Homo sapiens: one gene and its partner. Changing the gene in region 1 together with any one later gene gives a genetic interaction. Each region holds a gene or a part of one and is shown on either strand. Other genes may lie near its edges.

Region 1 (5,777 bases):
ATTCGCCAGCAGAGCCCAGCTCCTCCGCTTTAAAGCAGCAATGCCTCTGGCCCCCACCCCACCCCCGCCACCCAGGCGCAGCAGGTGCTTCCCGTCCCCCCAGCCCTGACACTCAGGCACCTGCTTGCTCCTTGCAGGTGTTTCAGACTCTGCACAGCACCGGGCAGTCGTCCATGGTCCGGGACTGGGTCATGCTGTCCCTCTCCAACTTCACGCAGAGGGCCCCGGTCGCCATGGCCACGTGGAGCCTCTCCTGCTTCTTTGTCAGCGCGTCCACCAGCCCGTGGGTCGCGGCGATGTATCCTCTCTGGGTCCCTGGTGCTGGCCCCGTTTCCCTTGTCAACACCGAGGCTCATGTTTCATGATAAGGTTTTGAAACCTAACCTTTGCAAAAACCCCACAGATGCCAGGGTGACAGGCCCTCAGCCCCAGGGAAGTAAAATGCTGACAGGGGTACAGAAAGGAGCACGTCCAGACATTTGCTGACCAGGGCCTCTCAGAGGGGCCGGTGTATGGCAGGAGGGTCGCAGCTGAGGGGCCTTTCTGTGGAGGGCCTGGGTGAGGGGAGCGAGGGTGGGCGGTGGTCTCTGCAGACGTCCCGCCCACTCGCGGGCTCTGTGTGGCTGGGCTTCTCCTGACACTGCTTCTCATTAGCTTTGGTCATTGTGCCTCGATCGCCCTCTCGGGGAAAGGCTTAAGTAAAGATCCAGTTCCCACCCCCAGATGCTGGCTGCCAGGAGTTTCCCTTTCCACAGCCCTTCCCCAAGACAGACCACAAGAGCCTCCAAGCAGCACAGTTGTCCTGGTGCTGACAGCACAGCCTTGCCCGGCGTGCCTGGCACGGCTCTGCCCTCACTGCATTGGAGCAGGGCTAGTGGAGGCCAGCGGAAGCACCGGCCACCAGCGCTGCACAGGAGCCAGGCCAGGTGAGTGCTGCCGAGTGGGTGCCCTGCCTGCAGGGCATCCAGCCAGCCAAGGGTTGCAGGAATGGAGGTGGAGGCGCTGATGCAGCTGGAGGCATCCAGGTGGCCCTTCCGGGGCTCTGCTCGCTCTCCAGGCTCCCTGGACCCCTTTGTAGACTGTTTCAGGAGAGGAACTCCCAGGTGAGGACAGGGAGGCAGCATTCCCCTCATTTGCCGGCCTTTTTCCTTAACTCCTGCACCAGCCTCCCACATGTCATCAGCAGGATGGGCAAGCTGGAGCAGGTGGACGTGAACCTTTTCTGCCTGGTCGCCACAGACTTCTACAGACACCAGATAGAGGAGGAGCTCGACCGCAGGGCCTTCCAGTCTGTGCTTGAGGTGGTTGCAGCCCCAGGAAGCCCATATCACCGGCTGCTGACTTGTTTACGAAATGTCCACAAGGTCACCACCTGCTGAGCGCCATGGTGGGAGAGACTGTGAGGCGGCAGCTGGGGCCGGAGCCTTTGGAAGTCTGCGCCCTTGTGCCCTGCCTCCACCGAGCCAGCTTGGTCCCTATGGGCTTCCGCACATGCCGCGGGCGGCCAGGCAACGTGCGTGTCTCTGCCATGTGGCAGAAGTGCTCTTTGTGGCAGTGGCCAGGCAGGGAGTGTCTGCAGTCCTGGTGGGGCTGAGCCTGAGGCCTTCCAGAAAGCAGGAGCAGCTGTGCTGCACCCCATGTGGGTGACCAGGTCCTTTCTCCTGATAGTCACCTGCTGGTTGTTGCCAGGTTGCAGCTGCTCTTGCATCTGGGCCAGAAGTCCTCCCTCCTGCAGGCTGGCTGTTGGCCCCTCTGCTGTCCTGCAGTAGAAGGTGCCGTGAGCAGGCTTTGGGAACACTGGCCTGGGTCTCCCTGGTGGGGTGTGCATGCCACGCCCCGTGTCTGGATGCACAGATGCCATGGCCTGTGCTGGGCCAGTGGCTGGGGGTGCTAGACACCCGGCACCATTCTCCCTTCTCTCTTTTCTTCTCAGGATTTAAAATTTAATTATATCAGTAAAGAGATTAATTTTAACGTAACTCTTTCTATGCCCGTGTAAAGTATGTGAATCGCAAGGCCTGTGCTGCATGCGACAGCGTCCGGGGTGGTGGACAGGGCCCCCGGCCACGCTCCCTCTCCTGTAGCCACTGGCATAGCCCTCCTGAGCACCCGCTGACATTTCCGTTGTACATGTTCCTGTTTATGCATTCACAAGGTGACTGGGATGTAGAGAGGCGTTAGTGGGCAGGTGGCCACAGCAGGACTGAGGACAGGCCCCCATTATCCTAGGGGTGCGCTCACCTGCAGCCCCTCCTCCTCGGGCACAGACGACTGTCGTTCTCCACCCACCAGTCAGGGACAGCAGCCTCCCTGTCACTCAGCTGAGAAGGCCAGCCCTCCCTGGCTGTGAGCAGCCTCCACTGTGTCCAGAGACATGGGCCTCCCACTCCTGTTCCTTGCTAGCCCTGGGGTGGCGTCTGCCTAGGAGCTGGCTGGCAGGTGTTGGGACCTGCTGCTCCATGGATGCATGCCCTAAGAGTGTCACTGAGCTGTGTTTTGTCTGAGCCTCTCTCGGTCAACAGCAAAGCTTGGTGTCTTGGCACTGTTAGTGACAGAGCCCAGCATCCCTTCTGCCCCCGTTCCAGCTGACATCTTGCACGGTGACCCCTTTTAGTCAGGAGAGTGCAGATCTGTGCTCATCGGAGACTGCCCCACGGCCCTGTCAGAGCCGCCACTCCTATCCCCAGGCCAGGTCCCTGGACCAGCCTCCTGTTTGCAGGCCCAGAGGAGCCAAGTCATTAAAATGGAAGTGGATTCTGGATGGCCGGGCTGCTGCTGATGTAGGAGCTGGATTTGGGAGCTCTGCTTGCCGACTGGCTGTGAGACGAGGCAGGGGCTCTGCTTCCTCAGCCCTAGAGGCGAGCCAGGCAAGGTTGGCGACTGTCATGTGGCTTGGTTTGGTCATGCCCGTCGATGTTTTGGGTATTGAATGTGGTAAGTGGAGGAAATGTTGGAACTCTGTGCAGGTGCTGCCTTGAGACCCCCAAGCTTCCACCTGTCCCTCTCCTATGTGGCAGCTGGGGAGCAGCTGAGATGTGGACTTGTATGCTGCCCACATACGTGAGGGGGAGCTGAAAGGGAGCCCCTCCTCTGAGCAGCCTCTGCCAGGCCTGTATGAGGCTTTTCCCACCAGCTCCCAACAGAGGCCTCCCCCAGCCAGGACCACCTCGTCCTCGTGGCGGGGCAGCAGGAGCGGTAGAAAGGGGTCCGATGTTTGAGGAGGCCCTTAAGGGAAGCTACTGAATTATAACACGTAAGAAAATCACCATTCCGTATTGGTTGGGGGCTCCTGTTTCTCATCCTAGCTTTTTCCTGGAAAGCCCGCTAGAAGGTTTGGGAACGAGGGGAAAGTTCTCAGAACTGTTGGCTGCTCCCCACCCGCCTCCCGCCTCCCCCGCAGGTTATGTCAGCAGCTCTGAGACAGCAGTATCACAGGCCAGATGTTGTTCCTGGCTAGATGTTTACATTTGTAAGAAATAACACTGTGAATGTAAAACAGAGCCATTCCCTTGGAATGCATATCGCTGGGCTCAACATAGAGTTTGTCTTCCTCTTGTTTACGACGTGATCTAAACCAGTCCTTAGCAAGGGGCTCAGAACACCCCGCTCTGGCAGTAGGTGTCCCCCACCCCCAAAGACCTGCCTGTGTGCTCCGGAGATGAATATGAGCTCATTAGTAAAAATGACTTCACCCACGCATATACATAAAGTATCCATGCATGTGCATATAGACACATCTATAATTTTACACACACACCTCTCAAGACGGAGATGCATGGCCTCTAAGAGTGCCCGTGTCGGTTCTTCCTGGAAGTTGACTTTCCTTAGACCCGCCAGGTCAAGTTAGCCGCGTGACGGACATCCAGGCGTGGGACGTGGTCAGGGCAGGGCTCATTCATTGCCCACTAGGATCCCACTGGCGAAGATGGTCTCCATATCAGCTCTCTGCAGAAGGGAGGAAGACTTTATCATGTTCCTAAAAATCTGTGGCAAGCACCCATCGTATTATCCAAATTTTGTTGCAAATGTGATTAATTTGGTTGTCAAGTTTTGGGGGTGGGCTGTGGGGAGATTGCTTTTGTTTTCCTGCTGGTAATATCGGGAAAGATTTTAATGAAACCAGGGTAGAATTGTTTGGCAATGCACTGAAGCGTGTTTCTTTCCCAAAATGTGCCTCCCTTCCGCTGCGGGCCCAGCTGAGTCTATGTAGGTGATGTTTCCAGCTGCCAAGTGCTCTTTGTTACTGTCCACCCTCATTTCTGCCAGCGCATGTGTCCTTTCAAGGGGAAAATGTGAAGCTGAACCCCCTCCAGACACCCAGAATGTAGCATCTGAGAAGGCCCTGTGCCCTAAAGGACACCCCTCGCCCCCATCTTCATGGAGGGGGTCATTTCAGAGCCCTCGGAGCCAATGAACAGCTCCTCCTCTTGGAGCTGAGATGAGCCCCACGTGGAGCTCGGGACGGATAGTAGACAGCAATAACTCGGTGTGTGGCCGCCTGGCAGGTGGAACTTCCTCCCGTTGCGGGGTGGAGTGAGGTTAGTTCTGTGTGTCTGGTGGGTGGAGTCAGGCTTCTCTTGCTACCTGTGAGCATCCTTCCCAGCAGACATCCTCATCGGGCTTTGTCCCTCCCCCGCTTCCTCCCTCTGCGGGGAGGACCCGGGACCACAGCTGCTGGCCAGGGTAGACTTGGAGCTGTCCTCCAGAGGGGTCACGTGTAGGAGTGAGAAGAAGGAAGATCTTGAGAGCTGCTGAGGGACCTTGGAGAGCTCAGGATGGCTCAGACGAGGACACTCGCTTGCCGGGCCTGGGCCTCCTGGGAAGGAGGGAGCTGCTCAGAATGCCGCATGACAACTGAAGGCAACCTGGAAGGTTCAGGGGCCGCTCTTCCCCCATGTGCCTGTCACGCTCTGGTGCAGTCAAAGGAACGCCTTCCCCTCAGTTGTTTCTAAGAGCAGAGTCTCCCGCTGCAATCTGGGTGGTAACTGCCAGCCTTGGAGGATCGTGGCCAACGTGGACCTGCCTACGGAGGGTGGGCTCTGACCCAAGTGGGGCCTCCTTGTCCAGGTCTCACTGCTTTGCACCGTGGTCAGAGGGACTGTCAGCTGAGCTTGAGCTCCCCTGGAGCCAGCAGGGCTGTGATGGGCGAGTCCCGGAGCCCCACCCAGACCTGAATGCTTCTGAGAGCAAAGGGAAGGACTGACGAGAGATGTATATTTAATTTTTTAACTGCTGCAAACATTGTACATCCAAATTAAAGGAAAAAAATGGAAACCATCAGTTGTTGCTGTGTGAGGCTTGCTTTGCTTCATGAGAACCTAGACCTTGCTGAGCTGGAGTCTTAGGAAGCAGTCTCCTAAGTGCTTCTCCAGCAGGGGCAGAAACTGTCCCACCAGCTAACATCTGGCATTATGGAGGGTCCCCCAGGCAGCTGCCAGCAGGGACAGGCCCCGTGTTTTCTGTAGCCAGGGATGAGGAAGTGGCCCCAGGGCATGGGCCTGGCTGGGTGCTTCTGCAAGGGCCTTCCCAAACCACAGTACAGGTGGTCTTCCTGCCCTGCAGATGGGAGCTGTGGGAGCTGCTGGAGCTGCTGGAGCCTTCATGGTCAAGTGACATCATAAGCTTATATGACATACACAAGCCTCAGGACTTGGCCCATGGCACTGAAGCAGGTCATCAGGCCCAGCACAGAGACTAGAGCTGTGTTCTCACAGGGCCCACCACCCTTCCACCTCCTTGGCCATTGACACCTGCGTCCCTGGCCCAGCTGCTCCCAG
Region 2 (7,998 bases), 750 kb from region 1:
TGAGTCAGATCAACCACCACAGGCTCTAAAGATTCACAAGTGAGGTCCACAATTTCATCTCCAGCTTCAAAAGAAAGTATTTCAACAAGCATTAAGATTAAGAGGAAAGTAAGGTTGTATCCCTCTACACTTTAGTATGACTGCTAATGTTATAGGCTTACCCCAAACTAAAACAATCCTGAAGTATACACTGCAAAGAGCACCAGGACCAACACCTCCCTCAGGAGGGAAAGCCAGTAACCACCCTTCCAGAATTCTGCTCTGAGTGGGGAGGTATGGTTTTTACAAATGTACCTGGGGGGTTATGTATGTGTGCGCATGTGCATACCTCTATTCCACGGCATCCCACTTCCACACGGCTATGCCTCTGTGCCCCATCTGGGAGAACGCACCATGCATGCCCAGCCCCAGGCCTTTCTCTTTGGGATGGACTAGCCTGAAACCTCTGCTCCTCCCAGCAGGTGAAGCTGACCACTCTCACTTGGCCCAAGGACCAAAAGTCAGGCTTAGCTTAGTAACTTCATCGGTTAATCTAGGGCAAATTCTTTTTTTTTTTTTTTTTTTTTGAGACAGAGTCTCGCTCTGTCGCCAAGGCTGGAGTGCAGTGGTGCGATCTTGGCTCACTGCAACCTCCGCCTCCTGGGTTCAAGCAATTCTCTGTCTCAGCCTCCCGAGTAGTTGGGATTACAGGCGCCTGGCAGCATGCCTGGCTAATTTTGTTTGTATTTTTAGTAGAGATGGGGTTTCACCATCTTGGCCAGGCTGGTCTTGAACTCCTGACCTTGTGATCCACCCACTTCAGTCTTCCAAAGTGTTGGGATTACAGGCGTGAGCCACCGTGCCCGGCCAAGGACAAACTTTTAATTTCCATTTATCTCTCAAGTTTGTCTCCCTAGTTGGATGGAGAATAACAGTGATATATACTGATAGCTAGAACCTCAACATACAAAATGGGTTGCATCTGTTGTGAAGCTTGCCTTTCAGCCCTTAGGGTATACTGTGATGTCTACATGTGCACAGGATAAAGGTGAGAAGGACATGGACCAAACAGTTAACGTACAACTTCCATTTATATAAAGTAAAAAATGACGCACAACCATTTTTATTTCTGATTACTATTAATATTAATATTAAAAAGCACGGAATGGGCCAGGCACAGTGGTTCACACCTGTAATCCCAGCACTTTGGGAGGCTGAGGTGGGCGGATCACCTGAGGTTGAGAGTTCGAGACCAGCCTGACCAACATGGAGAAACTCCGTTTCTACTAAAAATACAAAATTAGCGAGGTGTGGTGGCACATGCCTGTAATCCCAGCTACTCGGGAGGCTGAGGCAGGAGAATTGCTTGAACCCCGGGATGCAAAGATCACGCCACTGCACCCCAGCCTGGGCAACAAGAGCAAAACTCCATCTCAAAAACAAACAAACAACAACAACAACAAAACACTAAATGAAGTTTTTTAAGAAACAGTATTGGTCTAATATTTGGGGAAAGTGTCTTGTAATGCATTTAACTTTTTTTTTTTGAGACAGAGTCTCGCTCTGTCGTCCAGGCAGGAGTGCAGTGGCACGATCTCGGCTCACTGCAACCTCTGCCTCCCAGGTGCAAGTGATTCTCCTGCATCAACCTCCCAAGTAGCTGGGATTACAGGCGCCCGCCACCACGCCCGTCTAATTTTTGCATTTTTAGTAGAGATGGGGTTTCGCCATGTTGGCCAGGCTGGTCTTGAACTCCTGACCTCAGGTGATCTGCACGCCTCGGCCTCCCAAAGTGCTGGGATTATAGGAGCCAGCCATGGCGCCCAACCCAACGTAACTTCTTTTATTTATTTTTTAGGTGGGGTCTTGCTGTTGCCCAGGCTAGAGTGCAGTGGCACGATCACGGCTCACTGCAGCCTCAATGTTCCAGGCTCAAGTGATCCTCCTACCTCAGCCTCCCACACTTGGCTAATTTTTTTATTTATAGAGACAGGGTCTCACTATGTTGTCCAGGCTGGTCTGGTACTCCTGGGCTCAAGCAATCTGGCTGGCCTGTTTTATTTTCTTGTATCATAAAGTTTCACAAGAATAAAAACCGTGATAATCTTACATATACAATATAATTTATATAAAATTATTGCATTCTTTATTAAAAAGAAGGGCTGTCCAACAGTCCATATACTGATATACAACAATTTATTGAACCATTCTCTTTCTGGTGAACACAATTCTGGGCTCTTACAAAAACAGTGCTCTAGGCCAGGCGGGTGGCTCAGGCCTGTAATCCCAGCACTTTGGGAGGCCAAGGCAGGTGGATAATCTGAGGTCAGGAGTTCGAGATCAGCCTGACTGACATGGTGAAACCCCGTCTCTACTAAAAATACAAAAAAAATTTAGCCGGGTGTGGTGGTGGGCGCCTATGATCCCAGCTACTTGGGAAGCTGAGGCAGGAGACTTGCTTAAACCTGGGAGGCAGAGGTTGCAGTGAGCCGAGATCACGCGATTGCACTCCAACCTGGCTGACAGAACGAAACTCTGCCTCAAACAGAAACAAAAACAAAACAGTGCTCTAATGGGCAGCCCTAAGTACACACAGGGGTAAGACTGCCTAGAGGATGACAAGTGCCATGACGGAAAGCAGTTCGTTCCTTTTTGGTCTAGAGCCAGGATCCTAGCCTCAAGTCAAGGCTTTCAAGAACTCATTTGTAGAAGTGAAACTCAGAGACCATATAGAGAACTTCATTTCTCCTGGGGGGCCCATGAAATTTATCTTGCACTAAGTTTCTTCTGTTTAAAACGCGAGTTTGCATGGCCGGGTGCAGTGGCTCACGCCTGTAATACCAGCACTTTGGGAGGCCGAGACGGGTGGATCACAAGGTCAGGAGATCGAGACCATCCTGGCTAACATGGTGAAACCCTGTCTCTATTAAAAATACAAAAAATTAGCCGGGTGTGGTGGCGGGTGCCTATAGTCCCAGCTACTTGGGAGGCTGAGGCAGGAGAATGGCGTGAACCCAGGATGTGGAGCTTGCAGTGAGCCGAGACTGCACCACTACACTCTAGCTTGGGCGACAGAGCAAGACTCTATCTCAAAAATAAATAAGTAAAAATAAAATGCCAGTTTGCAGGTATCCTAGTTATAAAAACAATATATGCAGAGCAAAGGGACTTAGGCCAGCCATCAACCACTTCTTGAGCAGGCAGAAGGGGAAATCCAATCTGGCCTCTGCCTATACCAAGCTCCAACACAGGGAGCTCTGTGGACAAGTTTGCCTTCTTGGGTGATTTCATGTCCTAATGAAAAACAGAAGAGGAAAGCGAAGTACTTTACAAGGTCCAGCAATTGGGGATGCAGTTTCAGATAGAAAAGGTGGGCTATCTCATTTGCGCTAGATTTTTTTTTAAATGGATCCTACCCCACTGCTGCACATTACCAGAGTTGAACAGTTAGCCCAGTTGAGAAGCTATTTCAGAATCTGTGAAGCTTTGAGTTGTACATGGTGAGTGTGAGACTGCATAGGCCTTCTAAAGACACTGAAAGCACCTTCTACTAGCTCACCCTGGTACAGTGTTCTCTCTCCACTTTAACACCCCACAGTTGTAGTGTCCCTGGCAATCTTACCAGTTTCCACGAGTTCTATGGGTTCTGCTTCCAAGGAGATCTCGGGGGTGGAGGTTGCTTCCCGAGTTCGCTTCTGAGCTTGTCTAGAATTTATTGCTCCACCACGACGCTTTCTCTGAGTAGCAAGGGGGAAAGAAGAGTCACATGAACACCAGAATGTCAGGGTTTCAGGAAGAACTAAATGGGCAATAGAAATGGTTCACTTCATTAAGAAGCCAGCGAGTAGACTTGAAGTTAGGGCTCCTTTCAAAACTTGAGATTCAAGAATACTGAATGCTTACGGAGAGAGAAACCATCCAAAACATAAAATGAGTAGAAATTCCAGAAAGTAAAACTTCTGTTTTATCAAACTATCAGCAGGTCGGCTGGGCATGGTGGCTCACACCTGTAATCCCAGCACTTTCGGAGGCTGAGGTGGGCGAATCATGAGGTGAGGAGTTCAAGGTCAGCCTGGCCAACATGGTGAAGCCTCATCACTACTGAAAATACAAAAGTTAGCTGGGCGTGGTGGCAGGCACCTGTAATCCCAGCTACTCCAGAGGCTGAGGCAGGAGAATCACTTGAACCTGGGAGGCAGAGGTTGCAGTGAGGCGAGATCGCGTCACTGTACTCTAGCCCGGGTGACAGTGTGAGACTCCATCTCAAAAAAACTATCAGCAGGTCAAAAGGGACACGATGCATCCCTTTACAAAAGCTTGAGGCCAAGTCAGGATTTGGACTTGGTAGTGGATGCCCTGGCCAAAAGGCTGGAAACTCTTCCCTTTAACCAAAAGTTATCAATTTCTCTTCCTTGACTTTGTGTTCAGCCTTTCTGAGCCCTTTTTGTTTCTTAGCATAAAGAACTTGGAGTTTTCTGAGTTTCTATACATTGTGGAAAGCTTATCTTCCCCTGGGAAATGTGGCCTTGAACCTTTCAGGGCACTATCAACTGTGATTCACACCAGACAATCACTCCCCACAAAGAACTCAAAGAACCAAAGCTGTTTTAAGCCTGTTCCCAGTGGCTACCCAAGAGCCATGTCTTCCGGAAAGTTCAGGCTCTCAGCTGGTTGATAAGCAACTGACACTCTGACCAGCCTTTCTTCCAAATCCTTAGGCTGCTGGTTTGCCAATATGCTCCAGCATTTCTGGTCTGCCTGGTCCCAAAAGACAAGCTGAGAATATCCTCCACCTTAATCAAGAGACAGAGCTGGCCAGGCGCAGTGGCTCAGGCCTGTAATCCCAGCACTTTGGGAGGCAGAGGCAGGCGGATCACCAGAGGTCAGGAGTTCAAGATCAGCCTGGGCAACACGGTGAAACCCGTCTCTACTAAAAATACAAAATTAGCTGGGCGTGGTGGCACATGCCTGTAATCCCAGCTACTCGGGAGGCTGAGGCAGGAGAATCACTTGAACCTGGGAGGTGGAGGATGCGGTGAGCCGAGATTGTGCCATTGCACTCCAGCCTGGGCAACAAGAGTAAATCTCCATCTCACCCCCCCCCAAAAAAAAAAGAGCTTCCCAACAGAGCCTGTCACCTTGTATTCCCACTGGTGTTTCCGTGCTCTTCTCCCTGTGCCCTGTCCTGCTATCCTTTGCACTGGACAACCTGGGACAAGTACTGCACTACTAAGTCTCAAGTTCCTCACCAGTACCAGCCTTGCAGAGCTGTTATAAGGTCTAAATGAGATCATGTATGTAAAGTACTGCGCAGAGACGGAAGATGCTACTACTATCCCAATTCCTTAGCCTTACTAGGGTCAATCTGTCCCAGGAAACTCTGAAAGGACCAGATATTGCAGGAGAGATTCATACAAGATCCAGGAACACCCACCATCCAGCCAAGCCCTCGCTAGGCAACAGGGATAAGCCTGATTCTGTGTTCCAATGCTACTCTTATCAAATGGCAGCTTGAGATGTTTTGGAAATGAAGCTGGGTCTAGTAACTTCCCACGGACTAAGGAGCACAGAACCAGCCCCAGGAGGGCCCAGAGGCCAAGCGACAGCAGCCAAAACTCCCAAGTGAGCAGCTGCTCTTGGCCTCAAGGGAGCTGACACTAACCTCAGTGGAGTTCTACTGCCCAGTGTTTTAAGGGTTTCCCCAGCAGCCACCAGGTTGCTTATGTAAAAAGTAAAGTAGAGGTTCCTCTTCAAAGACTTTCCTCCCCATCTAATTAGAAATAAATAGTAACTTCTCTTAAAAGCAAAATTTATTCAAAGACCTGTACTAACATTCTTAAATATCTGCTAGCCATAATAAAGAAATCAATGTACTTTATATTCTTAGCTCCCACAATTTAGCCTAAATATTTACCTTGGCATGCTTATATTAGTCCAAGCAAGCATTAGATCATAGCCTGTTCCTCTTCCTTATTTAAAGGTTATTTTTACCTTTTTCAGCATTCCACAAGTTACTTCCTCCTTCCTTTATTCTCCTCTGCCTTTGCCTCTTTTCAAAAGTTCTGGCCAGGTGTGGTGGCGCATGCCTGTAATCCCAGCACTTTGGGAGGCTGAGGCGGGCGGATCACAAGGTCAGAAGATCGAGACCATCCTGGCTAACACGTAGAAACCCCATCTCTACTAAAAAATACAAAAAAAATTAGCCAGGCGTGGTGGCGGGCACCTGTAGTCCCAGCTACTTGGGAGGCTGCGGCAGGAGAATGGTGTGAACCCGGGAGGTGGAGCTTGCAGTGACCCCGAGATCATGCCACTGCACTCCAGCCTGGGCGACAGAGTGAGACTCTGTCTCCAAAAAAAAAAAAAAAAAAAAGTTCTAAGTTGCTAGCCAATTGGGACAAATACAGAATGTGAGGTCCTGTTCCAGCCAATAAAAACTGGATACAGCAGCAGAGTAAACACATCAAGTTATAAATAACCCTGTCTCCTTTATTCAATGTATTCTCATGGCAAAACAACTGGTGAGTGTACCCTTTCTGCAGAAAGTATAAATATGGCCTTGCTAAAAAAAATTGAATTTACGTTCAAATGCTATTTCTTTACAGCACCAGAAAACAAGCATTTCAAACACTTAGGACTCTTTAATATTTACCCCATTCTCGTGGATCACGAGGTCAGGAGTTCAAGACCAGCCTGGCCAAGATGCTGAAACCCCGTCTCTACTAATAACACAAAAAGTAGCTGGGCGTGGTGGCATGCACCTGTAGTCCCAGCTACTCGGGAGGCTGAGGCAGGAGAATCGCTTGAACCCGGGCAGCAGAGGTTGCAGTGAGCCAATATTGCATCCACTGCACTCCAGCCTGGGCGACAGAGCAAGACTCTGTCTCAAAATAATAATAATAAATAAATGAAAATATTTACCCCATTCTCTTTGACAATGTCCTTTGTCCTCGTATAGGCTCCTTCCCTTGTAGCCAAGTCTTTTTTTTTTTTTTTTTTTTTTAAGACGGAGTCTCACTCTGTTGCTCAGGCAGGAGTGCAGTGGAATGATCTCGGCTCACCACAACTTCTGCCTCCCAGGTTCAAGCGATTCTCCTGCCTCAGCCTCCCGAGTAGCTGGGATTACAGGCACCCGCCACTGTGCTTAGCTAATTTTTTTGTATTTTTAGTGGAAACGGGGTTTCACCATGTTGGCCAGGCTGGTCTCGAACTCCTGACCTTGTGATCCACCATGCCCAGCCTGTAGCAGACCAAGTCTTTCTTACTAGGCACTGCTAAGCAGACCTCCATGTCCCACAGCTACCTGTGTGGTTTCTGGGCCCCACTGAGGGAGCCAAGAAAGCAGCCATGGGTCCTGGACCCAAAATCTCCCCTCACGGATAATTACAGGAATGTCCCCACCCCTCCCTAACCTCAGGAATCCTCTTTTCTGCCTGCTCTATCGACCCCTCCATGCCTTTAACCAGAGCTTCTTCCCTGCCTGGAGTGCCTGTCCCTCCCTTTCTTTACTTGGCCAATTCTTGCACAGCTTTCCAGAACCCACTCAAATGTCACCTCCTTCCTGAGGACATCCTTTACCCTCCCACTCTGCTGTCTCTGAGCCTCCTCCTCCCAAGTAGCTTCCCTGCACCACTCAAGACAGGCTCAATCAATCCAGGAATATCTGCAGAGCTCCCCACTCTGGCCCTCCCATAATTCTGGTCATAATTCTCTTCCTTTTCACTAGCAGGGCCCTCAGAGGTCCATAGCTTTTGGTGAAAACTGACCATCCTATCACAACCACATAAGCTATAACCACACCGTAACTTTCAGGAATTTTAACCAATTTCTTCACACACATGCACAAAAGGCTACATTGTTTTGCCTGTTCTGATCTGGCCTAAGCAGAGATGGGTTAAGGCTTAAAGCACCTATTTCCCCATAGGTGAGCTACATGGTAACCTGCAGGTGAAGCACCAAGGTGGGAGGTCAAAGAAGTGGGCTTTTTTGTGTATCACCATCAAAAGTGGGCCCTGGAGCACA

The links.
Region 2: of HTT (region 1) and RNF4, changing one suppresses a phenotype caused by changing the other (phenotypic suppression), as found in Homo sapiens cells (one study listed by BioGRID).

The regions. Positions count from the first base shown.
Region 1 is NC_000004.12:3,238,681-3,244,457, forward strand, and holds the end of HTT (huntingtin), read left to right. Parts: intron 1-137; coding exon 138-298; intron 299-1,165; coding exon 1,166-1,379; 3' UTR 1,380-5,277; downstream 5,278-5,777.
Region 2 is NC_000004.12:2,492,725-2,500,722, reverse strand, and holds part of RNF4 (E3 ubiquitin-protein ligase RNF4), read right to left. Parts: intron 3,717-7,998; coding exon 3,602-3,716; intron 65-3,601; coding exon 1-64. UniProt on the Homo sapiens protein: E3 ubiquitin-protein ligase which binds polysumoylated chains covalently attached to proteins and mediates 'Lys-6'-, 'Lys-11'-, 'Lys-48'- and 'Lys-63'-linked polyubiquitination of those substrates and their subsequent targeting to the proteasome for degradation.